2 separate regions of the Homo sapiens genome follow, and region 2 is linked to region 1. Evidence: fine-mapped QTL for protein levels in blood plasma. Region 1 holds a variant in brackets. A gene starts in the other region. All regions are shown on their reverse strands. Region 1 holds the start of UQCC5 (ubiquinol-cytochrome c reductase complex assembly factor 5). Region 2 holds the start of TIMP2 (TIMP metallopeptidase inhibitor 2).

Evidence for each region. A credible set is the group of variants that fine-mapping cannot tell apart. PIP is the posterior inclusion probability: the model's chance that the variant is causal. The UK Biobank Pharma Proteomics Project read protein levels with antibody pairs (Olink). The fine-mapping took linkage between variants from a reference panel, not from the people measured, so its PIPs are less certain.
Region 2: it holds the start of TIMP2, and the variant in region 1 is the best candidate, but not a certain one, in a credible set for the plasma level of the TIMP2 protein (UK Biobank, PIP 0.61).

The regions. Positions count from the first base shown.
Region 1 is chr3:52,534,502-52,544,884 of GRCh38, reverse strand. UQCC5 (ubiquinol-cytochrome c reductase complex assembly factor 5) reads right to left here and starts at 8,280. Exons shown (of 2, transcript NM_001124767.2): 1 at 7,979-8,280; 2 at 2,995-4,461. The coding sequence starts at 8,129. The coding sequence ends at 4,400. It also overlaps a transcript of NT5DC2 not described here. RefSeq lists an enhancer at 7,428-7,961 and a silencer at 8,295-8,594. The variant A/C (reference allele first, on the strand shown) is at 8,571.
Region 2 is chr17:78,915,781-78,932,444 of GRCh38, reverse strand. TIMP2 (TIMP metallopeptidase inhibitor 2) reads left to right here and starts at 7,058. Exons shown (of 5, transcript NM_003255.5): 1 at 7,058-7,486. The coding sequence starts at 7,357. RefSeq lists enhancers at 8,829-8,898, 12,767-13,742, 15,193-15,888, 15,889-16,584.

The sequences.
Region 1 (10,383 bases):
TTCCTCTAATATCACTTTGCAAATCCCTGTGGTTCTGTTCTCCTGAATTTAGGATAGTACCGGCATCTGTGCCCCTGAGCATATTTTGAACAATCATTGATGTATAGCTAGACATCCCATCTGAACACTGAGCAAACAAATATTGCTATTATTCTGTTCCTTTTTTTTTTTTCTTTTGAGACGGAACCTCACTCTGTCACCCAGGCTGGAGTGCAGTGGTGCAACCTTGGCTCACTGCAGCATGCGCCACCATGCCTGGCTAATTTTTGAATTTTTAGTAGAGACAGGGTTTCTCCATATTGGCTAGGCTGGTTTTGAACTCCTGGCCTCAAGTGATCCACCTGCCTCAGCCTCCCAAAGTGCTAAGGTTACAGGTGTGAGCCACTGCGCCCAGCCTACTCTGTTCCATTTTAGCCTGGAAGTATGTTAGGTCCCTGAATGAAAGTTCAGAACTAAACAAATTAATGGACTGTCCCTTTTCCCTGTTTTGGCTATTTCATGGTATTTACATCTTGCAGATAGCACATAAATGAGACAAGAAACTCCAGATTTAATACTCGTGTGAAGACTAAGCACTAACATGCTTTACTAGGAGATAAATTACTTTGGAAAACAACAGGGTCCAAGAGTGTGTGTGTGCGTATATATATATATTTTTGTTGTTGTCGTTCACGCCATTCTCCTGCCTTAGCCTCCTGAGTAGCTGGGACTACAGGCGCCCAGCACCACGCCCGGCTAATTTTTTGTGTTTTTAGTAGAGATGGGGTTTCACTGTGTTAGCCAGGATGGTCTTGATCTCCTGATGTCGTGATCCGCCTGCCTCGGCCTCCCAAAGTGCTAGGATTACAGGCGTGAGCCACCGCGCCCAGCTAAGAGTATATTTCTTTAAAGAGAGTTAATTCAGTGTGAAAAATTTAAACACACACACAAAATGGAGATTAAATATCACATCAGGGATGTAGGTAAGACTTCCAAAATAGAACTGCTAGATGAACAAAAATAACTCATTTATTCACTACTTTTTTTCTTTCTTTTTTTGGGGGGGGCTGTAATACTGTTGTACTATTATTAGGTACTTTCTCTATAAATTCAGATAATAAAGTGACACTCCAAAGCCCATATTCTTTCCCCAACACCACAGTGGAGGTAGAGTTCTAGTAATAAATGCTAATCAGGTTTTCAGCATTCTGCAATAAGTATAGTTCTTGAAATTTATTAAAATTTATGCCCTGTAGTTTACAGTTGGTGGTACTGCAATTCTTTTCACGGCTTTTTTTTTTTTTTTTTTTGGAGACAGGGTCTCACTCCATTGCCCAGGTTAGAGTGCAGTGCTGGGATCATACTTACTGCAGTCTTGATCTGGCTCAGGTGATTCTCCCACCTCAGCCTCCCAAATAGCTGGGACTACAGGTGCACACCACCAGGCCTGGCTAATTTTTTGTACTTTTTGTAGAGACAGGGTTTCACCACGTTGCCCAGGCTAGTCTTGAACTCCTGGGCTCAAGTAATCCTCCTACCTCAGCCTCCCAAAGTGCTGGGATTATAGACATGAGCCACTACTCCTGGCGCCCTTAAATAGTTCAGTGTCTGATAAGTAGGATAGAGTCATTCCTAGTAGGAGAGTTAAAAATACTTTTGAGGAAAAATTAAAAGCTTATATACCTTAGCTGGGCACAGTAGCTCATGCCTGTAATCCCAACACTTTGGGAGGCTGAGGTGGGAGCACTGCTTGAGCCCAGGATTTTGAGACCAGCCTGGTCAACACAGCAAGACCCTGTGTCTACAAAAAATTTAAAAATTAGCCAAGCATGGTAGCTAGCTAGTCCCAGCTACCTGGGAGGCTGAGGCAGGAGGATCGCTTGAGCCCAAGAGTTCAAGGCTGCAGTGAACTATAATCATGCCACTGCACTCCAGCCTGGGTGACAGTGAAACTCATCTCAAAAAAAGCTTGCACCCTAACAAATGAGTTCTCACTCACAGCATCCAAACTAATGTGCTCTGAAAACCTATCTTCCATTGAATACAATAATTGCTTTGGTAGTCTACCTGCCTAAAAGTCAGAAGTTGTCCAATCTTTTTTTTTTTTTTTTGAGACGGAGTTTCACTCTTGTTGCCCAGGCTGGAGTGCAATGGCGCGATCTCGGCTCACCGCAACCTCCGCCTCCCAGGTTCAAGCGATTCTCCTGCTTCAGCCTCCTGAGTAGCTGGGATTATAGGTGCCTGCCACCACACCCGGCTAATTTTTTTTTTTTTTTTTTTTTTTTTGAGACGGAGTCTCGCTTTGTCGCCCAGGCTGGCGTGCAGTGGCGCGATCTCGGCTCTCTGCAAGCTCTGCCTCCCGGGTTCACGCCATTCTCCTGCCTCAGCCTCCCGAGTAGCTGGGACCACAGGTGCCCGCCACCACGCCTGGCTAATTTTTTGTATTTTTAGTAGAGACGGGGTTTCATCGTATTAGCCAGGATAGTCTCGATCTCCTGACCTCGTGATTTGCCCACCTCAGCCTCCCAAAGTGCTGGGATTACAGGCGTAAGCCACCATGCCCAGCCATACACCCAGCTAATTTTATATTTTTAGTAGAGACGGGCTTTTTCCGTGTTGGTCAGGCTGGTCTCGAACTCCTGACTTCAGGTGATCCACCTGCCTCGGCCACCCAAAGTGCTGAAAGTACAGGTGTGAGCCACTGCACCCAGCCTTCTTTTTTCTTTTAATAGAGACGGAGTGTATGTTGCCCAGGCTGGCCTTGAACTCCTTGCCTCAAGCAATCCTCCTGCCTGAGCCTCCCAAAGTGCTTGGATTACAGGCTTGAGCCACCAACCCTGGCCATCATTTTCAAAGTCTGTTGTCCTTAAATAAATTAACATTCTAATGGAAAGAAGAAAAAGAAATGGAGAGGAAAGCTCTAGAGAAGGCCAACACAAAATTCAGTCTAATGGTTCTCTGTGGGGTGGAAGCAGGGGGATGGGCCAGGGAATGAACCCACAGCAGACACAAAAGTTAGCCAATGGTTTTATTAGTGTTTACTATTATTCTTTGTAAAAGGTATGACGTATTTTCTATATGTATCAAATACTAAACTCCTAAAACAAGGTGGGTTAGGGCAAACATGGAGTATGGCCATATAATTGAGAATCATACTATAGTTTTTATACAGCAGTCAAGTCACTAAAAATGGTTTATCAGGTTAGGTTTACCAGGAATCCTAGATGACACAACTGGGCATGAGAATACGATGAACCACCGTCCTCTCCCTGATGGCAGAGGTCATTACTGGCCTTTCACATTCAAGCCATCTCCCAGCTGTGACTCTGGGCTTGCTGCACTGTAGTGTAGGTAGTGCTTTAAGGAGATGGGAGTAGTTAGTTAATGGTTCTTTACTGAATTGGTTCTAAGATAAGTGGACTAAAATTAGAAGAAAAATCTAGAAAAAATTAGGAGACATGTTTGTGGCAGAGATCATTAACTTGAGGATACCCTATGGCCTTAAGCATCAGCTTTATTCTCATGCAATAGTTAGAAACTATTCTGAAACTTAGTCTTTAGTATGTAGATTTTTTTTTGCTTGAAACGATGTTAGATGTGGCTATGCAAGCATGGAAAGGTATCTGCTTTTTCTACCAGGCTGATCCAAACTTACACTGGGTCAGATTGCCAAATCACTCAATAGACTGAGCCTCTGATTTAGCTCAAGTCTGGGATGCTTTATACTGTGTAGGTTCACTTTCTCATGGAAGGAGCAACTGTTTCTAGCAGCTGAATCGAACAGCAACATCTTCATCCTAGAGTAGTGTGAAACCTGTTGCCCACAGTCCTCATGAAGATCCAGCCCTTGCAGTTTAGGGGAGCCAAGCAAGGGAGGAGCATATTTCTGTTCACAAGAACACTAGCATGAGAAATGCGTAGTCAATCAAGAATTTCCACCACCCTAGCAAAAAGTTTATAGTCTAGTAGCTGGCAGAAATACAACCTGCATAATTATCCTGGTTTAAATGATCTGGCAATAGAGAATGTGTCCATAATTTAATTTGAATTCTGCAAAAAAGTAAATAAGGTTATAATTAGTTGCCTAAAAACAAAGATTGCCGAAAACAATTCGGGCTTCACTGAAAAGCATCCTGATTGATCCTTGAATTGTTTAAGAAATATTTCATGGACTAGATTCATCGAGTGAGTGTTTTAGGAGGAAATAATTTTCCCACAAGTGCTGTCCAGCAGTGACTTGGGAAGTACTCAAGCAGAGACAGAACTATAAAAATTCTTTGCAAAAACAGTTATTGGAATATTGTGCAGCTGATAAAGGACAAGCTGTGTCAGAACAAGAGATCTGAAAAGTATATTTTAAAAGGCACTGAAACCAATAGTAAAAATTCATATTGACTTTATTGACTGCTGAAGTTCAGTCTCATTCATCTTCCAGCCTTCTCTGATACTGTCTTTCTGAGGCTTTTCTACGGTAGACATCATCTGTATCAAACAAAAAGTTGCTCAGATGTTTAAGAAACATATTTAAAATTAAAACAATCTGAATAATTTAACCAATAGTCTAGGTCTGTCACCTACTTCTGAATCTTGGCATTAATATTTAACTCAATGCCAAAATAAACTTAAAACAAAACTTGAGTTAGATGAGGACTATGATAATGGAGTTCTAGACTTAAATAGGGTAAAAGTCAGTGTCTTGAAAGATAGAATCATGTCTTAGCACATCTCTTAGTGTTTTAAGATGTCCCTCACTTCCTTCTCCCCCATAATTTCTATTCTGTGCTCTGAAGTCATCCTTCTTAACTAAAACCTGGCTCCTCAAAGGCACTTCTTGCCTCTTGGCTCTCTGATGCTCCCTCTCCCATATCCAGAAACCTTCAGGTGGGGAGAGGAGATCAGTTTCCTTGTTCCAGCTGCTGCTTTGCCAGACCTTTGACTCGCCACCTTCATGTAAAGAATCTTCTTTCCAGGCCGGGCACAGTGGCTCACGCCTGTAATCCCAGCACTTTGGGAGGCCGAGGCAGGCGGATCACAAGGTCAGGAGTTTGAGACCAGCCTGGCCAGTATGGTGAAACCCCGTCACTACTAAAAATACAAAAATTAACCGGGTGTGGTGGCAGGCACCTGTAGTCCCAGCTACTCAGGAGGCTTAGGCAGGAGAGTCGCTTGAACCCAGGAGGCAGAGGCTGCAGTGAGCCAAGATCGTGCCACCACACTCCAGCCTGGGTGACAGACCAAGACTCTGTCTCAAAAAAAAAAAAAAAAAATCTTCTTCCTTCATGGCTCATGCCATTTGTCTGCCACCATCTTTCTTTGGCACCTGCTCTCCATCATGCCCCTTCAGTCACCAAAAGTGCTGGCCTCTGGCTCAGGTTCCTTGACCCTGTCCTGTGCCTTCTCCCCAGATACCACCATTACCCATGGGGATGAAGCTCCAGTACCCTTCACCTTCAACATCTTCCAGTCACTTGCAGGGCTCCTCTGAAGGATTTCTGTTCATACCACAACCCCCGTTACCTTTCCAGCCCTCCTGTCCTTGGACCTCACGTTTCTTCCCCAGGTCCTTGGCCCCGTCTTACCCGCTCAGCCGCTTCTTGTTCTCTCTCCTGGCAAATCAGCTAAAATTCCTTCATACTCTTGTCAATATCTTAACTTCCTGACACACCCTCAAAACCCCAACCACAGATTAATCCAACTTCCTCCCTTCCCCATGCTTCACCCTGCTTGCTGTGTCCTGAGGGGCCAACTGATGCCTCTAACTGGGTCCACTGAGGTGTCTGACAATCCTGTTTCCTCAGCCATCATCCTGACTCTTTTTCACCCACCCCCAAATGGCCATTTCCTCTCTTCCTTCACAGAGGAAAGTCATCATAAGGAACTCTTCCAGCTAACTTCCAAGGGCTTACTCCTGTCACCCAGCTCTGGTCCCACCCTCTCAAGGGTCCAGTATCTCCAGCCTCTCTCCACCCTCTCCTTCTAGATCATTATTTGCATATCCTGCAGTCTCTCCTAGAGGAAGGGGGGTTACCTCCCCTTCACAGAGCCAGATGTATTTAACCTCCTGTCTTCTGTGATAACAAATCCTCCTGGTTTCCCTCCTTGCCTTTCTGGCCATTCTCAGTTACCCTTAAAATGTTGGGATTTGGGCCAGGCGCAGTGGCTCACGCCTGTAATCCCAGCACTTTGGGAGGCCAAGGTGGGCAGATCACCTGAGGTCAGGAGTTCTAGACCAGCCTGACCAACATGGAGACACCCCATGTCTACTAAAAATACAAAATTAGCCGGGCGTGGTGGTGCATGCCTGTAATCCCAGCTACTCCAGAGGCTGAGGCAGGAGAATCACTTGAACTTGGGAGGCAGAGGTTGCGGTGAGCCAAGATCGCACCACTGCACTCCAGCCTGGGCAACAAGAGCGAAACTCAGTCTCAAAAAATAAATAAATTAAATTAAAATGTTGGGATTTGACTTCCATCATAATTTGCTTCTGAATGGTTCACAAATCCCAATTTCTGGCCCAGATTTGCCTCCTGAGCTTCAGCTCTGTATAACCATATCTACCTCGTCACGTCCCAGATGGTGCCCAGGATGGCCCTGCCTGTGTTCGGCACCTTCAGGAAATGCACTACCCCCTGCCCCAGGTGTCCCACCAGAAGCCTCCACTCCTCATCTCCTGAGTCCACTTAATCACCATGCCCTGTCAGTACTACCTCTGGGCTGTCTTTTACTTCCATCCCTTCTTGGTATCCTTTCTGCCCCAACCTAGACCAGGCCACTGTCTCAACTCTGGACAGCCATACAGCGTAACTGTTCCTACCAATCTGTCCACAAGGAGCCATTCTCCACATGTTAAAGCCTCTCCCTAAAATGACTCAATCCTTGGGATCCATTCTTGGTTCTCCAGTCCCTTTGCCACCCTGCCCAGGCACCCTTCTAGCCATCCCCACTTTGTTGATCTGCTTCAATCCCTCAAACACACAGCATACTCTCACACAAGTGCTCCTACCACTGCCATGGAGATGCTTTCAATTCCACACACCTTCCCCTCATCTGACTGACACCTACTCAGTCTTCAGGTCCTACTTTACTTGGTAGCTGCTTCCGGAAGCCTTCCCTGCACCATCTAGTCCAGTTGAGGCGCCCACCCGAGAGTCCTATGTTCCTCCCACTTCCTTCTCACAGCACTGATCACTTTGTATGCTAATTGTCTTTATCATCTTCTTTCCCATTAGAGCTCTTCTGGGGTAAGGGACACCTCTGCCTTGTTCATTATAGCCCCTCAAGAATGCTCATTAAGTATCAATGAATGGATGAACAGAAGGACTAAGGATCTTTAGGAATCACTAATGTAACAATTCTTTAAAATGTGGGTTGGCAAGTCACAAGTGATAGCGTTTCAGGAGAGGGGCAAAGCAGAAAGGGCCGAGGGGTTGGGGAAGTCCTCCTGAAAGGAACTGGCCTGTCCAGAGTTAATGCTCAGTAATGCAGTGCCAGGCGTTACCACTATCTTTACAGTGCTGATCATCTGGACCCAGACCAAAGACCTGGTGCCAATGACTGTCCTGTAAAGGTAGTGGTAATTAGCAAAGCCAGGCAGATCAGCTCCCTCCAGAGTTTGGACAGAAGAATCCAAAGAGAAATGGCTAGTTAGCAGGAGTTTCCCTGACCCCTCATATCCACCCCCTTCTACGATTGTTGTGAGCAAGTCTGTTCCTTAAGCCCAAACGATGTCACCGGCAGGGGTGAAGGGCAGGCATGAGAGGGCTGGAAGAAGCACGTGATCTCGCCTGTAAGTGCAGGGAAGGTCACAAGGCTGGACGCCAATGTGCCCGGCCTACAGGAGAGCCAGGCCGCCCTGACTGCCAAGCGAATGGAACTGCACTCGCCCAGCGCTCTGAGTGGAATGCGCGGTCTGCAATCTGAGAATACTCCCCAGAAAAACGGATCCCTACCGCCTCGTGCCTTCCTGAAAGGAAACAGAGACTGCTACCCCCTCACTTACAGAAGGTCTCCTGGCCCACGCGCACTTTAATCATGATCCACTCCATCGTTCCTCCCAGGACAAAAAAGAAGGGCAGGAACCGGTAGATGCCAAATCGCTGCTTCCCGGGCACCCGCTGCAGAATCCGTCTCACCTGGGCCCTGGTGAACATGCTCGACCGAGGTCGTGGAGAGGGATATGACGGAACTAAGCACTGGATCGCCCGGACGCAGCCGAGACCGCCCCGCCCGTTCTCGCCGTGTACCGCGACCTGGGAGACTAGCGAGCGCCGTCCTCCGCCACTGTCTGGTAGGCGCACGAGTGCCGGAACTGGGCGCCGACCTTCTAAAGCGAGGCGGATCCGCCAATCAGACTGCAGCGGGGGCGTGCAGCTCCGCCAATCAGAGCACGGCAGGGCGCGCGTGCTCCCTGAAGCCGAGCAGGGCCTCGAAGGAGCTGGCGCAGGCGCCTCAGCTCTGGAGGTGGGACGGCCCAAAAGGGAAGGACAGCCCACGTGGCGCCGGCCCGGCCCCGCCCCCTGCCTCCCCAGTGCAGGTCTGAGCTCGCAGTTGGCAGCCGCGCCCCCTACTCTGCCACCGCCATTTTTATTCCT[A/C]ATACCCAGATAGAAGTGATGACCCTCTCTGATGGACTATGTACAGCACCACATTCCAAAATGCAATTATGCAATGCCTTGCGTTTATTTCGGAGACGTGATTGGTGCCTAGACTTCTAAAGTAACAGAATTTGATATGGAGTGTTGAAAGCTGAACTTTATCAATTATCACAGCAAAAATCTAAGTAAGCGCCCCGTGAGAACCCTAAAATTAATAAAAGCTATCTTGTATGGGGCACTTACAGTTCCACAGGCACTTGTAGGCGCTTTATTCACAATAATCGCAGAAGAGCAGTATAAAGAGCATGCACTCTGTTACCAAACCACATCCCTGCTCTACAGGTGCTCCCTTAGCCCATCTGTGCCTCAATTCCCTAAGCCGTAAAACGGAGGCCTTGTTCTGACGCTGTGATAATTTAGTGCGGTAATAGGAATGATGCACTGAACACAACCCTGGAGCATAGTAACTGATTAATATTAGTTAGAATATTCATTATGATGATAATGATTGGCAGAGCCCTCGCTCTTCACATGTATTCCCAAACATGGTTTTTGTTTGTTTCTTGAGACAGGACCTCGCTCTGTCATCCAGGCTGAAGTGCAGTGGCGCAATCTCGGCTCACTGCAACCCCCTCCTCCCCGGCTCAAGCCATCCTCCCACCACTACAGGCGTGCACCACCACGCCCGGCTAATTTTTTAATTTTTTGTAGAGATGGGGGTCCCACTATATTGGCCAGGCTAGTCTCAAACTCCTGGGCTCAAGAGATCCTCCTGCCTTGGCCTCCCAAAGTGCTGTGATTACAGGCGTGAGCCACCGCGCCGAGTCTGAACGTGTATTGTTTATATGTAGTCTCTTAACTGACAGTTTAAGAGACTATGCCAGGTAGAAGCAGGGCTCTGACTTAAGAGACTTCACTTGTAATTGCGTCTTCTCATGCTGCTGTGCTTGCTGAAGATAACTGAAAGGGGCTGTCACCCCATTACCTAGGACTAAAGTAAAAACTGCAGGAACAGCTTTGAGAAAGGAGACAACTATTAGACAATCTAAGGAAGGTAAATGAAAGCTTAGAACCAATGAGACGATTTGGTGATATGGACACAAAATATACAAAAGCAGACTGGAGAGAGCAAGCAGGGCCCCAGAAAGGGTCATAGGGCCCGCAGTGAGCAGCCTGAGCTGCCGCCTGTACAACCGGCTTTGGAGGGCCAGCCCGGAAGCCTCTTTCTCCTCCGGGTAGACTCCGCCCAAGCATGCACACACACAGGCTTGATGCTCGCTCCCGTTTCTACAGGAGGTTTTGACGGCTGGATGCTGCAGGGCATCCCCTCGCCTGGAGGAGGTTCACTTGTGGCCAGGTTCCCAGCACACCCACTTGCTCACTGGGGCCCTGGGGACACCGCCACACTCGAGCCCATCCTACGGCCTCAATCCTTACCAGTCCCCAGGCCATGGACTGCCACACTGTAGGTCTTCAATCAAGGTTCAGTGGAGTTTCGAATGTACACACACCCTGAAAGACAGCGCGGCCACCTCAGAAAACAACGCGCGCCCAGCTGGCTCCCCTCCGACAGGGCCCACGGCTACTGGGTCGGCCTCCTCCGGACCCTGAGCACAGCCTGGTATGCGTGCGGGCTCGGAATACGGATCTGAGCAGAAGAAATGCGAGTGGAGAGCGGTTCTGCGCAGGAAAGAGGAATTTTGTTGGAAAGCCTGTCGACGTTGCTAGAAAAGACCACAGCATCTCACGAGGGGCGTGCGCCGGGAAACCGGGAGTTGACGGGTCAGTGCGGCCAGTTGCCGAGGTCCGAACC
Region 2 (16,664 bases), not on the chromosome of region 1:
TAGGATTACAGGCGTGAACCACCGTGCCTGGCCTGTATACTTCTTTCTAGATCCACTCACATATTTGACTTCACATATATGAAGTATTATACATGCTGTTTATTATGGAAATTTTTTTTTTAAGAGTCAGGCTCTTGTTCTGTTGCCCAGGCTGGAGTGCAGTGACCCAATCAGAGCTCACTAAAGCCTTGAACTCTTGGGTTCAAGTGATCCTCCTGCCTCAGCCTCCCAAAAAGCTGAGACTACAGGCACATGCCACCATGCACAGCTAATTTCTTTCTTTCTTTTTCTTTTCCTTTTCTTTTTTGGCAGAGTATCGCTCTGTCGCCCAGGCTGGAGTGTACAGGCACGATCTCGGCTCACTGCAAACTCAGCCTCCTGGGTTCAAGTAATTCTTGTGCCTCAGCCTCCCGGGTAGCTGGGACTACAGGCATGCTACCATGCCCAGCTAATTTTTTGTATTTTTAGTAGAGACAGGATTTCGCTATGTTGGCCAGGCTGCTCTGGAACTCCTGGCCTCAAGTGATCCAGCTTCCTTGGCCTCCCAAAGTGCTGGGATTACAGGCATGAGCCACTGCACCTGGCCTTGACCACCTAATTTCTTTAATTCTTTGTCGAGATGGGGTCTCACTGTGTTGCCCAGGCTGGTCTCAAACTCCTGGTGTCAGGTGATCCTCCTGCCTCAGCCTCCCAAAGTTCTGAGATTACAGGTGCAAGACACTGTGTCCATACCATGGACACTTATAAAAAATCTTTTTCGGCCAGGTGCGGTGGCTCATGCCTGTAAGCCCAGCATTTAGGGAGGCCGAGGCAGGCAGATCACTTGAGGTAGGAGTTCGAGATCAGCCCAACCAGCATGGTAAAACCCCGTCACCACTAAAAACACAAAAATTAGCCGGGCGTGGTGGTGGGAACCTCTAATACCAGCTACTTGGAAGGCGAGGCAGGAGAATTGCTTGAACCCGGGAGGTGGAGGTTGCAGTGAGCTAAGATTGTGCCACTGTACTCCAGCTTAGGCGACAGAGCGAGACTCTGTCTCAAAAAAGAAAAAAAAAATTCTATTCTGTGCCTGGCCTCTCTCCCCTGACAATCGGTGTCGGCAGCATGGTGCATGTCTTGGTCTCCAGGCTGTGGGGACCTTCACTCTCCCATCTGCATTCTTGTTCTCTATAGAACCTGTTTGTTCCTATGTCTCTGCACCTTGCTTTGCTCAGGACCAAAGACTTTTATTGGTTTGTTAGTGGTTTCCAACCAGGACCGTTTTGCAATGTCTTGAGACATTTTTGATGGTTGCAATTGGAGAGGGTGCTGGCATCCAGTGGGTCCGGCCAGGGATGGTGCTGAACACCCTACAGTGCCCATGACAGCCCCCCACAAAGAGGGATCTGGCCCAAATGTCAACTGTGCCAAGGCGGAGAAGCCCGGCCCCTAAAGAAGATGGCTAATGAAATCCATGTTGAAATGCCCTTCAGCACGTCCACCATAGAACACGATGAGCCGCTCATGCTGCCTGTGTATCTTGTCTCAAGCACAGTGGGTCCCAGTCACTCTATTTTTTTTTTTTGAGATTGAGTCTTGCTCTGTTGACCAGGCTGGAGTGCAGTGGCAGGATCTTGGCTCACTGCAACCTCTGCCTCCCTGGTTCAAGTGAATTCCGGCTAATTTTTATATTTTTAGTAAAGATGGGGTGTCACCATGTTGGCCAGGCTGGTCTCAAACTCCTGACCTCAAGTGATCTGCCCACCTCGGCCTCCCAAAGTGTTAGGATTACAGGCGTGAGCCACCACGCCCAGCCATCACTCTTGACTCACCTTCTTGTCATCTTCAGGATGTCCTGTGGTGAACAGCCCCACCAGTGGATGTTGGGGACGGACACGTGGGCTGGGTGCCCATTGTGACCAAGAGTCTGAGACCCGGCTGGATGGGGAGGCACAGATGGGCTGCCTGCCCATCCAGCCGGGCCTCAGACTCTTGACAGCCACGTGTCACCTGACTGAAGTGTCACCTCCCAGACAGCCAGACTCAGACACGGTCCCCACCTTCCTCTACAGCTGCCGGCTCCCTGCCCCTGAGACTGCCCTGGACACTCCCCTGAGGGCCGGAGTTCCAGCCATCGGCAGGGGGTCAATTTCCCGGGTGTGTGGGGCCAACGTCCATGCTGTCTCTGGATGAGAACATCTGGCTCTCTAGGAACCTGCCAGAAAGAACGTGGGGGCTTCGGGTCCGTTCAAGCTGTCTCCACAGAGAGAACGTGACCTGCTCAGGGGAAGATGGCTCTCATCCAGACTGGGAGGGCGAGGCCACCGAGAAGAGCAGCATCCTCCCGCCAGCCCGGCGCAGCAGGGAGGGCGTCCTGCCTGGTGGCCTGAGACGGGAGCGACAGGGAGGAGGCCTTGGCACTTCCTCCGGCCCCGGACAGGATTCATCAGGTCCAGCCTGGGAGGTGTTCGCCTGGTGTGTTCAGGCGAGGGTGCACACACGCCTGACAGCTCTGCTGTGCTCTCTGCCAGGAAGGTCTCTTTGAGGGGGTGGGGGAGCAAGACGATGTTCCTCGTGGGAAGCGGTGGCCCCTGGAGCGTGGTCTGAGGGCCCTGAAATCACCCCCATACTTCACAGGGCTCCCTCGTGCTCCTGTCTGTCCTGAGAGGCTGAGAGCCTCTGCTCTTAAGCTGATCCAAGCCAGGGTCCCCCAGGCTGCATCTGGGCTGGGTGTCGCTTATGGTCCCTATGGTAGTCCACCCACCAATATCAAGATGAGAAGTGAAGGGGGCTGGTTAGGAGTGAAGCCATGGGTTGGGCGCGGTGGCTCACGCCTGTAATCCCAGCACTGTGGGAGGCCGAGGCGGGCGGATCACCTGAGCTCAGGAGTTCCAGACCAGCCTGGGCAACATGGTGAAACCCTGTCTCTACTTAAAATACAAAAATTAGCCGGGTGTGATGGTGGGCACCTGTAATCCCAGCTACTCAGGAGGCTGAGACATGAGAATTGCTTGAGCTCAGGAGGCAGAGGTTGCAGTGAGCCGAGATGGTGCCATTGCACTCCAGCGGGAGACAGAGTAAAACTCTGTCTCAAAAAAAAAGCAGTGAAGCAGTGGAGGGAGCTCCCAGCCCGGGGTCTGCCTTCCTCCTTCCTCTCTTGCCCTGGGCATGGGGCATGCGGACCCTGTCACTTCCCTTATGGGTGGCAGCCCCCTCCCCATGTTCAAGTTTGCTTGCAAGGTCAAGCCCTCTTGGCCACAAAGCACAGAGAAGGACAAGGAGAAGGAGCAGCTTGCAGAAGCTGTGTCTCTACAAAAAATACAAAAAATAGCCAGGTGTGGTGGCGCATACCTGTGGTCCCAGCTACAAAGGAGGCTGAGGTGGGAGGATCACTGGAGCCCGGGAGGCAGAGGTTGCAGTGAGCTGAGATCAAGCCACTGCACTCCAGGCTGGGTGACAGAGTGAGACCCCGGCTCTCAAACAAAGAAAAAAAAGAAAAAAGAAAGAAAAAGTGGGTTTGTGCTGCCATGAGCCAGATTCCAGTCTACTCCCTGTCTTCAGTAGGTTCCTGGTCTGAGGCCTCAGTTTCCTTGATTTTGAAGTGTGAGGACCCTAACTGGAAGAGAAGGTGGAGGGTGGTTAATGAGACAGAAGCTGGCTCAGGAGCCAAGACCCTGAGGGCCCCAAGCAGCAGGGAGATGACTGGGTCAGCAAGCTGGGGGCTGTGGGCTGCGAGGGAGGCCTGGCTGCTGGGACTGTCCTCTCCCCTCCCTGCTGTGCCCTTGGGAGAGTCATTTGGGCCCTCAGACCTCAGTCCCCTCTTCATCTGACTTTGCAGCCGCAGGTCAGCCATTCACGGCACTGCACCAGAAAGGGGTTTTGTGACTCTGGAGTCTCTGCATCTCCAGCACCTGCCCTTTCACTGGGCTCCCTGCCCCCACCCAGGCCACCCACCAGAGTCCCATCCTTCCAGGGGATGCGTCCGATCCTGCCCCTCTGCTCAGAACCCTCCAAAGGCTCCCACCTCACTCAGAACAAAATGCACATCCTCCCGGTAGCCTGGCTGCCCTCCGCCGTGTCCCCTCCCAGCCCCTGCTCCTGGCCTCCTGCCTCAGCCCTCCTTCCTCTCACTCCTCGCCACACCATGGGCTCCACCAGGTCCAGCATCGTCCAACCTTGGGGCCTTGCGTGTTTCCACCTGCTGTTCCAGGGATGTTCCTCTGTTCTGTAGACGCTGAATGTCTCACTCTTAGGACGGTGTCCAGGCTACAGCAGATACTCAAATGAGTATTTGTTGATGGATGGAGGGAGGAGGGAGAGAGAGAGAACCAAGAGAAAAGGGAGGAAAAGAAAGCTGGAAACTTCTGGTTTAGAGACCTGTTTGGAGGAGATAATGGTAGAGGGAACAGAAAAGTAGAGTACTCTCTGGTGGGGGAATTGAGGGGAGAGATTTTTTTTTTTTTTTTTGAGACAGGGTCTCACTCTGTCACCAAGGCTGGAGTGCAGTGGTGTGATCTCGGCTCACTGCAGACTCAACTTCCCCAGGCTCAAGCGATCCTCCCACCGCAGCTTCCCTGTAGCTGGGACTACAAGTGTGAGCCATCACGCCCAGCTAATTTTTTTTTTGTAGAGATGGGGTCTCAGTATGTTCCTCAGGCTGGTCTCAAACTCCTGGCCTCAAGTGATCCTCCCACCTTAGTTTCCCAAAGTGTTGGGATTACAAGCGTGAGCCACTGCACCTGGCAAGATTTCTGCTTCACTTTTCCTGGGAGCAATTCCAGCCTGTTTGTGTGCTGGTGGGGATGACTTCGGGGAGGGCAGTCCAGGATACAGGTGCGAGGCCTTGGGTTGGAAGTTCCAGTCTCACGCCCCCCAACCCTGGAGCCCAGGCCCCCCTTTCCTCCCAGGTACATCCCACATTGGCCCCACCCCCTTGGCTGTCAGCACCACAACTGCTCTAAGGTATTTATCACCCTAACATGTACCTGATCACTTATATGTAGAGCTTGTCTAAAAGACCGAGAGCCCCTATGCTACCTGTTTCTATCATGAACTGACAAATTGAAACACAAGTTCAACAGCATTTTGTTCCCCCTGTAACCAAAAAGAAGGAAAGAAAACGATGAAATGGCTGAAGGCAGCCAGCACATAACAATTTTCTGAATTAACTGTACTTTTAAACGTTAGCTTCAAACATCATTTTGTGAACGACCCAACTCTATTTCACGCTAACAAAAACCAAAAAAGTGACTTTGGATTTGTCAGGGTGCTAAAAATAACGGCATTGCTTATTTAACTTTTCTCAGAACTGTCTGTTACAAAACATACACAAACAGAAAGAAGCTGTTTTTCCATTCTTTCACTATTTTCCAAAGTTTCATACCTCAAGTCAGCACCGCACAATTTAGTGGGCAATTCTTTTTAAAAAAAAAAAAAAAAAAAACAAAAAAAAACAAGAGTCTTTCTCTGTCGCCCAGGCTGGAGTGCAGTGGCGCAATCTCGGCTCACTGCAACCTCCGCCTCTCGGGTTCAAGCGATTCTCCTGCCTCAGCCTCCTGAGTAGCTGGGACTACAGGCGCGCGCCACCACGCCCGGCTAATTTCTTGTGTTTTTAATAGAGACGGGGTTTCACCGTGTTAGCCGCCAGGCTGGTCTCGAACTCCTGACCTCGTGATTCGCCCACCTCAGCCTCCCAAAGTGCTGGGATTACAGGCATGAGCCACTGCACCCGGGCTTTTTTTTTTTTTTTTTTTCTTTTGAGATGGAGTCTCGCTCTGTCCCCCAGGCTGGAGTGCAGTGGCATGATCTCGGCTCACTGCAAGCTCCGCCTCCTGGGTTCATGCCATTCTCCTGCCTCAGCCTCCCGAGTAGCTGGGACTACAGGCGCCCACCACCAAGCCCGGCTAATTTTTTGTATTTTTAGTAGAGACGGGGTTTCACTGTCTCTACTAAATGCTAGCCAGGCTGGTCTCAAACTCCTGGCCTCAAGTGATCCTCCTGTCTCGGCCTCCCAAAGTGCTGGGATTACAGGCGCAAGCCACCGTGCCCGCCCTGATTCTTCCTGTGTCATTTTCCTGGGCTTCCCTCTCCCTAGCTGGACTGCAAACACTCTGGAATGCTGACCTGAGGGCTGGAGTGCTGACCTGAGTGCAGCAGTGTCCATGGAGCCCCACGGGGCACACACCAAATGTACAGGGTGGGTGCCCACAGCCGGGCACAGGCAGGTTCACAGCCAGGAAGCCCGCCTCACCACCCTACACATGTTCATCCCTTCATATGCCTGGGTCTTTCCTGGAACACAAAACTGTTTTGGGAAAAGTCCTTCGGCTCCCACATTTGTGGACTAAGAGAGGAAACTGTGAGCGGAACCCAGCCAATGCCTCTGCTGCGATCCTACTGGCTCCTGGGCGCCTGGGCCCACCCCCGTCTCTTGTTGGCTGGTCAAAAATATGGCCAGTTTATATAAAATCCTGTTTTGTTCACAGTAACCACACCCCCCACCCCCCAACTAAACTGGCCAGGCGCACTTAAAATTCTAAGGCCTCCATTTGAAAAAGGGATCCTGTCAGTTTCTCAATAGGCCACCCGCCCACAGAAACGGGGAGGTGGCGACAGGGAACGGCCCCTGCTCCAAAGGACACCCCTTGGCTCGCCCCGAGGCTGGGCTCGAAGGGACCCCGGGGTGGCGGGGGACGGAGCAGCGTAGCCCTCCAGAGTCGAGCTGAAGGGGAAAGGGTAGCGGGTGGGTCGCCTGGTGTCCTGGAAGAACGGGGCGCGAGTCCCCCGCGCTGAGTCAGGGACCCCGGGCGCAGAAGGCCACGCAGCGGGGACCGGGGTCGGGGGGCTGGGGGCGTCCGGGGACCCCCGCGCGGGTGCGGGTCGCGGGCGCCAGGTGGTGCGGGAAGCCCCCGACGTGCCAGGCCGGGCACAACAAAAGCGCGGGCTGGGGGGAGGCGCGGGCGGAGGGGGAGGAGGGGGCTGCTGGGAGCGCCCAGAGCCTGCATTGGCCGCCAGCCACCGGGAGGAGGAGCAGAAAATCCTCCGAGCGCAATAAAACTGCGGCCCGGCCCAAGCCCGCAGCAAACACATCCGTAGAAGGCAGCGCGGCCGCCGAGAACCGCAGCGCCGCTCGCCCGCCGCCCCCCACCCCGCCGCCCCGCCCGGCGAATTGCGCCCCGCGCCCCTCCCCTCGCGCCCCCGAGACAAAGAGGAGAGAAAGTTTGCGCGGCCGAGCGGGGCAGGTGAGGAGGGTGAGCCGCGCGGGAGGGGCCCGCCTCGGCCCCGGCTCAGCCCCCGCCCGCGCCCCCAGCCCGCCGCCGCGAGCAGCGCCCGGACCCCCCAGCGGCGGCCCCCGCCCGCCCAGCCCCCCGGCCCGCCATGGGCGCCGCGGCCCGCACCCTGCGGCTGGCGCTCGGCCTCCTGCTGCTGGCGACGCTGCTTCGCCCGGCCGACGCCTGCAGCTGCTCCCCGGTGCACCCGCAACAGGCGTTTTGCAATGCAGATGTAGGTAAGGAGCGGCGACCCCAGCCCCCGCGCGGGGCCCCACCTCCCCCGCGACCCCGAGGGTTCGCAGACGCCCCGCCCGCCCGCCGCTGGCCGAGGGACCCCAGCGCCCGCCTCCTGGTCCCTCGGCGCCTTCTCGAATCCTGCAAGTGGACGCCCAGAGCCGACTTTCTTTCCCCCCTCCCTCCTCTCCCTTTCTTTCCCTCTCTTTGCCGAGATGCGTCTCAACCTCAAAATTCCACCGAAATTCCGCCGCAGCTCCAGCCCCAGGAAAGGGAGCCAGTTTGGCTTTTGGCAGGCGGCGCGCCCTGGGATGCCAGCGCTGGGGGCGGGGAGCGTGGGGGACACGGCGTGGGGGCGGGGGGCTGGAGGACTGGGGACCCCAGGAAGAAACTTTCGCAGATAAGGTGGGAGTTGGGCTTCTCTGGGCTTGGGGCTGGGTGGGGAAGGGCTTCTCTGCTGGGGCTTCTCCCACCAGCCCCATTTGGGGGCTCCCCGATCAAGCCAGGGTGGGATGGAAGCCCGCCCTACCCGAGGCAGGTTCCACAGGCCCAGAGGGGCAGGTGAAAAAGCCGGTGGCGTCTCCTGGCGTGGCTCCTTGCTTGCGCCCTGCCCAGGAGGCCCTGCAAACTGGCTGGGCAGGGACCGGGACCCCCGAATGTTCCGCTTTTTCGGGACGTCCACAAAAGCTGGAGACTTTGGTGACCGGACCCGGCACGTGGGACTGTGCTGCTGCTCAGATTCCCCAGCAAATACCCATGACCTCCGGACTCCTAGCCCCCAAAAGACAGGCGCCATGGAGGGAGGCAGGAGGGGCCCAGTTATTTGTTCTGATCCATGGAGGGGGAGGACCAGCAGAAATGGGAGGAACCCGCTGGCTCGAAGTTTCCACCCTGGTCCTGCACCTCAAGCCTCTGCAGCCCTGGTGCTGGTCAGCATGGTTTTCCTGGGGCAAGTCTGGCTACACGGCAGGTGGTCTCGGAGCCCCCTGCCCTCCTTCCTTCTTATGTCTGAGTCTCAGTCGAGTGACCTGTCCAGGGCAGATGGAGCAAGGCGGGGGCCCCCTCACCTGCCCAGAGTGGAGGTGGGACTTTCTGTTTCTCCTGCTGTCAGCCACGCCCTTCCCATACCCCGCCCACGGCTTCTTGCCCCACCCCGGTTAGCCCTAGGAGCTGCGTGCCCAGCTGGGGAAGTTTTCAGTTGCACCAATCTATTGAGATCACAGGTCTCAGGTGGCTCAGGCCACCTGGGCGGAAGGCTTGGTGTGTGCCTGTGTCAGTTTCCACAAAACCCAGTTTGGGGGAAATGAGGTCTTTTCTCCAGTTTAGCCTTGGTGCTCAGCAAGATTTGTGGGTGAAGGAGAGGTTCCTTTGATGAGGGAGCCATAATGGGCCTTTCTCTGGGGGTCCACGAGGAGTGCAGGCCTGTCCAGGCTCCTTGGCTCACCAGCACGTGCTGGGGCAGGATGTAGCCAAGGCCCAGAAGGAGGCTGTGGATAAAAGGACCTGGGAGTTGGATTTGTAGGAGTTGGGCCTTGGGACCCCTCCCCCTCCCGCCCCCCCCCCCACCCCGCCCCACACACACACTCCTCAGCTGTGTGGGAGAATGTCCAGGCAGCCACTCTGTCCTTGCTTGGCATAAGTTAAGGCGGCCACTGAGCTGGGAGCTGTTTCTGCGTGGGGTGTGGATCCAGGATGGCAGAGGGTGGAGGGCTGCAGTGCGTGCCTCCCGCCTCCTTCATGCTCAGCGCAGCACTCTCCTCTTCTGGGTTGCCTGGCATTTGTGTCTAAATCTTTGCATCAAAATCATCCTGTAGCTAAAACTTTTCACCCCATCCCGGCTCAGAGGCCCAGTCAGATGCCAGAGTTGCACTGCAGAGCTCAGGGCATTCGCTTCCTGTGGCCGCTGTGACAAACTACCACAAATGGGAGGGCTTAAAAGAACAGGAATCGATTCTCTGTAGCTCAGGAGGCCAGAAGTCTGAAAAGGTGTCCACAGAGCCAGTTCCTTCTGGGGGCTGTGAGGGAGAATCTCTTCCAGGCCTCTCTCCTTGATGTTGCTTGGTTCCATTTTCAAGGAACACATCACTTCCATTTCCGCCTGTCTTCACATGGCCTTCTCTCGTGTGTCTCTGTGTCCAAATTTCCCTGTTCTTTTTTTTTGGAGAGCAGGCTGGAGTGCAATGGCGCAATCTCGGCTCGCTGCAGCCTCCGCCTCCTGGGTTCGAGCAATTCTCCTGCCTCAGCCTCCCAAGTAGCTGGGGTTACAGGCACCTGCCACCACACCCGGCTAATTTTTTGTATTTTTAGTAGAGACAGGAATTCGCCATGTTGGCCAGGCTGGTCTCGAACTCCTGGCCTCAGGTGATCCGCCTGCCTCAGCCTCCCAAAGTGCTGGGATTATAGGCGTGAGCCACCGCGCCCGGCCAAATTGCCCTGTTCTTCTAAGGACAGCAGCCATTGGATTTAGGGCCCACCCTAATCCAGTATGACTTCATCTTGATAGATCAACAAATACTCTATTTCCAAATAAGGTCATATTCATAGGATCTGACTAGATGTGCATTTGAGGGGGGACGTAATTCAGCCCATACACCAGGCTGCCTTCTCTTATTCCCAGTCACCCTTTCCGTGCTCAACCAACTTGGGATAAACAACCCAGGACATCCCAGGGTAGGGTCCCGGAACAAATCCCACAGGGACGACAGCGGCCTGTCTATTCTCCAGTGTTCGATTCTCCTCGAAGCGATGCAGGTTTGTGACTTTCTCAGCAATGGTTCCCCATTCTGGCTCAGAGCAGAATTGCCTGGAAGATTCTTAAAGATTGCTCAGGTCTAGGTCCCTTTGCAGATACAGAGGGTCTTGCTCAGACTTCGGCTTTTGCAGTTTTAAAAGGCCCACAGGTGATTTAACCAGGGCTGTGACCCAGGGGTCTCAGAAAGGGGGTACAGTGGAGGTTAATAAAGGCTGGCTTGTTATGTGGCAAGCTGGCTCCTTTTACTCTTGGCTGCATGCAGCCTTGTTAAATGGCTTGGTGTCTACAAGAGGCAATTGGCTTAAGAAACAGTCAGATTTCTGTCTGCCCGGCTGAGGATTTCTGGGAGGTATCTCCCTAGCAGCTCTTGCAGTTGGTAGGACCGGAACTGTGGTCGGCAAAGATAATTCATGATGAGGTGGTGATGTTTAGGATAAGGGATGGTAAGAGGTGACCTGATTTCTTCCTGGAAGGCCCCAGGTCCTTGTCCTTTCCAGCAAGGCCAGCACAAACGGGAAGCATTTTGTGTCTCAGTTACAGTACTGTTCAAATGCGCTGCTGGCCCGGCTCCCTCTCACCCAGTGAAATCCTTCACATCTACTGCCAGCCTGCACAGCTACAGGGATCTGGCTGGAAATTAGCTTTGGGCTCACCATTCAGGCAGTCCCATGCCTGGAGCCACTTAGCCAGCTGAGCTACTTGGCAGACTCGGGCTGCTTGGGCCCGTTTCTGGACTCAAGGGTAAAGCCAGGAGCTCTCTGGATGCAGAGAATAAAACCTCTCCTCTGGCTTGGGTGGCAGTACCTAAGGCCACACATTATCCTAGAAGACCTCTGCGATGACATCTTCCTCACATGTTCCCACCTCCAGAAACTGTCCTCTGCAAATCCCCCGAGGAGCTCCAGCTCCAGCTAGAGAGGGGTCCACAACCAAGAGGGGGAACAACTGCTATTTTCTGGGGTGAACAGCCAAGGGTGACCTGGTTCCTGGGGGACACAGTGACAGGGACCAGACAGATAGTAGGGGCCACCCCAGAAAACACACAGCACGCAGTCAAAAATGGCTCTGTCTTCAGGACACGTGCTCAGGAAAAGCAACACAGCATCAGATTCATGTGAGCTGGGTCAGGCCTTCCATGCGAGGGGGCGGCGTGGCGCTTTTTAAAGAAACTGTTGGCAACTCGTTGTGCGAAGTATGTGATCGATCTGTATTGTCAGTTTTGTTCATCTTGATTTTCATATTGGGCTTGTCTGTGTTTCAACAAGCAATTATGGAGTGGCTGCCTCTGCCCCCGGGGATGTAAGGGAGAAGCAAGACATTGTCCCTGTGGTGGGGGATGCAGGGGGTGGTACATCTTGGCACCAGGCGGTGTGGAAGGGGGTTCCTGCTGCCCGGCGTGGTGAGCAGGCCTCCCCTCCTCAACTGCCCAGGTGTGGTATAAAGTCAGTCCACTCAGTGTGGTTTCGGTAAATAATTAACAACAGATAAACTTTCGAAATAACCAAAATTCAGGAGTAATCATGTGACAATGTGAAATGCATTTGCAAGATGTGAGGATAGAAGGCCCCATGGTAGGTTGAGGAGGGAGCTGTGGGGAGAACTGAGGCTCTTCGGCTTGGTTTTGAACAGCGTCCTTGGAGGGACAGGATCTGTCAGGGGAGTCACTGACCCCTGAATTACTGGCAGCTCCCAAGGCAGGGGGACTGGAAGAGCAGGGAGAGCTGTGCACAGCCTGGAGGTATGGCAGGTGCTGGAAGGAGCTCTCTGGACAACACACGTTTCTCCCTATCTGGGATCTGAGGACAGTGCCAGCCTCAGAGCCTCTCGGGCCTCCCCTATTTGCACCCTTCTGGGGGTGCAGAGCCACGTACGCAGTCCTGGCCTGTCGTTTGTGAGCTGCAGGTGGGCTTGGGTACTGCCTCCCTCCTCCCTGCTGTCGCAGCCAGGTTGCTAGGTAGATGCCACTGGTGTGGGCTGAGAGGTTCAGACTCTGTGGCGACATCTGAGCACATGGAGAACAGGGCATAGATGACTCCTGGGAGACTGAGAGGCGCGGGCAGCCGTCTCCAGTCCTGATGCAGAACCACTGACTCGATGCAGTGGGGGTCGTGTGTAGGGGTGAACGTCTTGGGTTCGGAAACAACAAAGAGGTCTGCCCGAGGCTTCCCAGGCAGCTGCGAGGAGGGATGCAACAGCAGGGAGGAGGAGATAAGAAGGAAGCAAAGACAGGCAGACGTGGCAGTGGCAGGGGCAGGAGGGGTGCATGCCCTGGACACTCTCTCTGTCCCCCGGTGCACGCACAGGCTCACAAACCAGGGACGGAGGGCAAGTGGCTGCATGGCTAGGATGGTCTTCTTTTCTTTTTCTTTTTTTTCGAGATGGAGTCTCACTCTGTCTCCAGGCTGGAGTGCAGTGGCGCTATCTTGGCTCACTGCAAGCTCCGCCTCCCGGGTTCACGCCATTCTCCTGCCTCAGCCTCCCGAGTAGCTGGGACTACAGGTGCCCGCCACCATGCCCGGCTAATTTTTTTGAATTTTTATTAGAGACGGGGTTTCACCGTGTTAGCCGGGATGGTCTCGATCTCCTGACCTCGTGATCCGCCCACCTCGGCCTCCCAAAGTGTTGAGATTACAGGCTTGAGCCACCGCACCCAGCAGATGGTCTTTTTCAAGAGGGGAGGGCAGAGTGAAGAAATCAAGGTAAGGGAGGGTGAAGAAGCCGCATCTGGAGGACGGCACTGGGGACCGTAACCCCTGGTCATTTAGCGGCAGCAGGGTGGGGTGTGCACAGGTGTTCTAAGCCAAGGGACCAACTGCCCCAGGAAAGGTGAGAGTTCTGGGTACAGAGTAGGCCAAAGAGGAGCCTGGGGATTCAGGGGGACCCACAAGGAGATTGGGGCCAAATGTCACGGCTCTGGCTTGTCATGTGACATCTGCATTCCATCCCGGGACCCACGCAGCCACCAAAGATGTTCTGGCTGTGGAATGACAGCGGGCGTTGCCCAGGGAGCCTGGTAGAAGGCAGCCGCCTAACTCCGCGTGCTGGAGCGGGCCTGGGGGTGGCACTGGAGTTTCAGGACTCTCCAGGTGCTGCTGCCGCCCGCCAAAGTTGGCATAGACCAGTCGTCTCCGGAGGGGTGCCCAGTACAGCCTCGGTGCTAAGAATGTTATGAATAGTTAGCATATGGATTCAGAGTTGTACTCCAAATATAATTTTTTTTTTTTTTTTTGAGACGGAGTCTTGCTGTGTCACCCAGGCTGGAGTGCAGTGGTGCAATCACAGATCACTGCAGCTTCAATTTCCTGGCCCAAGCGATTCTCCCACCTCAGTCTCCCAAGCAGCCACCACGCCCAGCTAATTTTTTTAATTTTTTGTAGAGATGGGGTTTCGCCATGTTGCCCAGGCTGGTCTCGAACTCCTGAGCTCAAGTGATCTGCCCACCTTGGCCTCCCAAAGTGCTGGGATTACAGATGTGAGCCACGGTGCCCGGCCTATATATACTTTTTTAATGAATATCTGATATTGTGAGTGCTTGGCCAAGGTTTTGTTTTTGTTGCCCGTGGGTCTGAACAGAAAGTGTGGAGGCTGACCACCTCAGTGTCGGGGGGTGGAGTAAGCAGGCAGATGAGCTGCCCTGAGATTGCTGGGAGGAGGGAAGGCGGGCAGACCCAGACTTCCCAATGGAGAGATGGTCAGGAGCATGGATGTCTCAGAGTGGCAGGCAGGATGAAGCTGGTGTCCCCAGGACCTCCCAGGGCCCACCTGCCTGGACCCCTGCAGCCTGTGCCCTGACGCCCTGGTGCCCTCGTGCATTTGCTGGGACGTGGCTGTGCAGCGGCAGAGGGAAGGGCACAGAGACCCCGCCCCGATGATTCCCACCTTACAACTGAGGGCTGAGCTACTCCCCAGTCAGCCAGGTCAGACTGGAGCCCAGGGAAAGCTTCCGGAGCCCCAGCAAGTCAGGTTGAGAGTGTGTTTACGCTAAGAAGCAAATTGAGGAACAGTCTTTATAAAAGAGGGGTCCTAACCCAGAGTGTGTGAACACCCAGCCAGAGATAGGCCTGGCGGGTTTGGGGGTGGTCACAAGCCCGGAAACTGTAAGTGAAGTTGTGTGTGTGTGTGTGTGTGTGTGTGTGTGTGTGTTTGTGTGTGCACGCGTACGTGTTTTTTTTGTGGACAGTGGCAGCCGCCAACTTCTCAAAGGTGCCTGTGGCCCTCCAAACGTCAAGTCACTGCCATTTAAAAGGAGTCTTTTTATAGGTTTCGAGTCTTCTGTTTCTTGTGAGTATCTGCCTAGTCTCGGAGCTGAGCGATGGTAACGATCTTGCCTTTCTCTCCTCTTCCACCCTCATTCTGCACTCGGCCGCCCTGGGCAGCCAGGATCCGCTCAGACACTACCACCACGAGGGGAGTCCGAGGCAGACCTGTAACCAGCTCTGGGGAAAGGATGCCATCAGTGTCCTTTGGCCTCCTAGCTGGTCTCAGGGATGGCTCCAAAGACCTGGGAGGTTCTGTGGTTGTCTTCCATGGGGAAGACGTCCTTGGTAGACGGCAGCTGCTCTTTGATCTCAAACTCTGATCACAGCTGGACCACACATGGCCTGAGGGAACTCCAGACCTCACCAGTTAGGAAGGGCCTGGTGTCTATGTCTTAGATACCTGCTTCTTACAGAATTTATTCACTTAAGTGTTTTTATATTTTGTTTTACAATAGAATTTGGGTGCCTACCGTACACAGAAATACTATGGCAAGTGTGTCAAGGAATTATTTAGTTTTCTGAGACGGAGTTTTGCTCTGTCGCCCAGGCTGGAATGCAGTGGTGCGATCTTGGCTCACTGCAACCTCCGCCTCCCGGGTTCAAGCAATTCTCCTGCCTCAGCCTCCCGAGTAGCTGGGATTACAGGTGTGTGCTGCCATGCCCAGCTAATTTTTGTATTTTTTTTTTTTTTTTTTTTTGAGACGGAGTCTCGCTCTGTCGCCCAGGCTGGAGTGCAGTGGCGGGATCTCGGCTCACTGCAAGCTCCGCCTCCTGGGTTCACGCCATTCTCCTGCCTCAGCCTCCCAAGTAGCTGGGACTACAGGCGCCCGCCACTACGCCCGGCTAATTTTTTGTATTTTTAGTAGAGACGGGGTTTCACCCTGTCGGCCAGGCTGGTCTCAAACTCCAAAGCCATGGTGCCCATCTTCAAGGAAGTGAGCGCAGGAATGCGAAGATCATCTTGCAGGCTGCACCTCTTGCTAGAGACTCTTACCGAGGTTAGGACACTGTTGAGATTGTGGGCCCTGAGGGGTGGATCTTATCAGAGCTAAGATAAGCCCCGAGGAAAGGTCCTGGGGTGGGTATGGGGAGCCCAGGGTGGCTGTGGTAGAGAGTGTACCACAGGGGGACAGAGTCATTAGAACAAAGTATGGCCAGGCTTGAGCCCAGGTGGAGCAGCAAAGCCTGGAGGCCCGGCAGTGGGACCTGGCAGTGGGACTCCGGGGAAGGCTTTATGGCCCCTGCACTGGGGGAGAGGGGGCAGACAGGAGGGGGATGACACTGAGGAGGAAGGTGGTGTTGAGAGGCTCGCAGTTACCAGGGGAGCAGAGCTCCCACCTGCACTGGGGAAGACCCAGGAGATGGAAGGCAGGCCCTGAGCGGGGCCATGGGTCGCGGGCAGACACAGGAGATGCCTCTGGAGCTTGACCCAGTGCCTGGGAGCCAGATGCCCTCTAACCTGGTCAGGAGCTCAGGCGGGTAGAGGTCTCTGTTGAGTTCTGCTGGAATCTGGTGACCAGAAAGTCTCGGCGAGAGGGATTTGAGCTAGAACTTCAGCAGACAGTGGAAATTGTGTAACGGGGCCTTGGAGGGAACAGGAAACGGAGCATTGAGGGGGAAGGGAGCCAGCAGTAGCGAGGGGAACTGACATTCATAGCAAACAGGGTGAGCGGGGGTCAAATGCTGGCCCCAGATTGAGTCCAGCAGAGCGATCCGGGACAGGTGGCCTCTCTCTGCCCCCACTTCCACACCTCCAAAAAGGAGAGGCGAATTTCCTGCCTCCCAGGAAGCTCTCGGAGCTAGTGGGGGACACCAGCTCTTTCTGCATCAAACCCTGGCTCTCCCTGTCTTTGTGTTCTTGTTCCTCCCCACCCCGCCCTGAGGGAGGCCTGGGAGCAGCCAGGGAGGTGAATCATGACATGGTGATAATGACTATGGCAACAATAACAGCTGGCAGAGGTGCCAAGGGCTTGGAGGTATGTTCTTGCTCTTCACTAGTGTCAACCCATTTCCTTCCCTATCCTCATCCCCATTGTACAGACGATCCAACGGAGGCACAGGCCCACTAAGGAACCTGCTCAGGGTTAGCTGGCTAGGAAATAGCAGAGTAAAAGAAGAGATGGTTTTTAGGCCGGGCACGGTGGAATCATGCCTGGAATCCCAGCACTT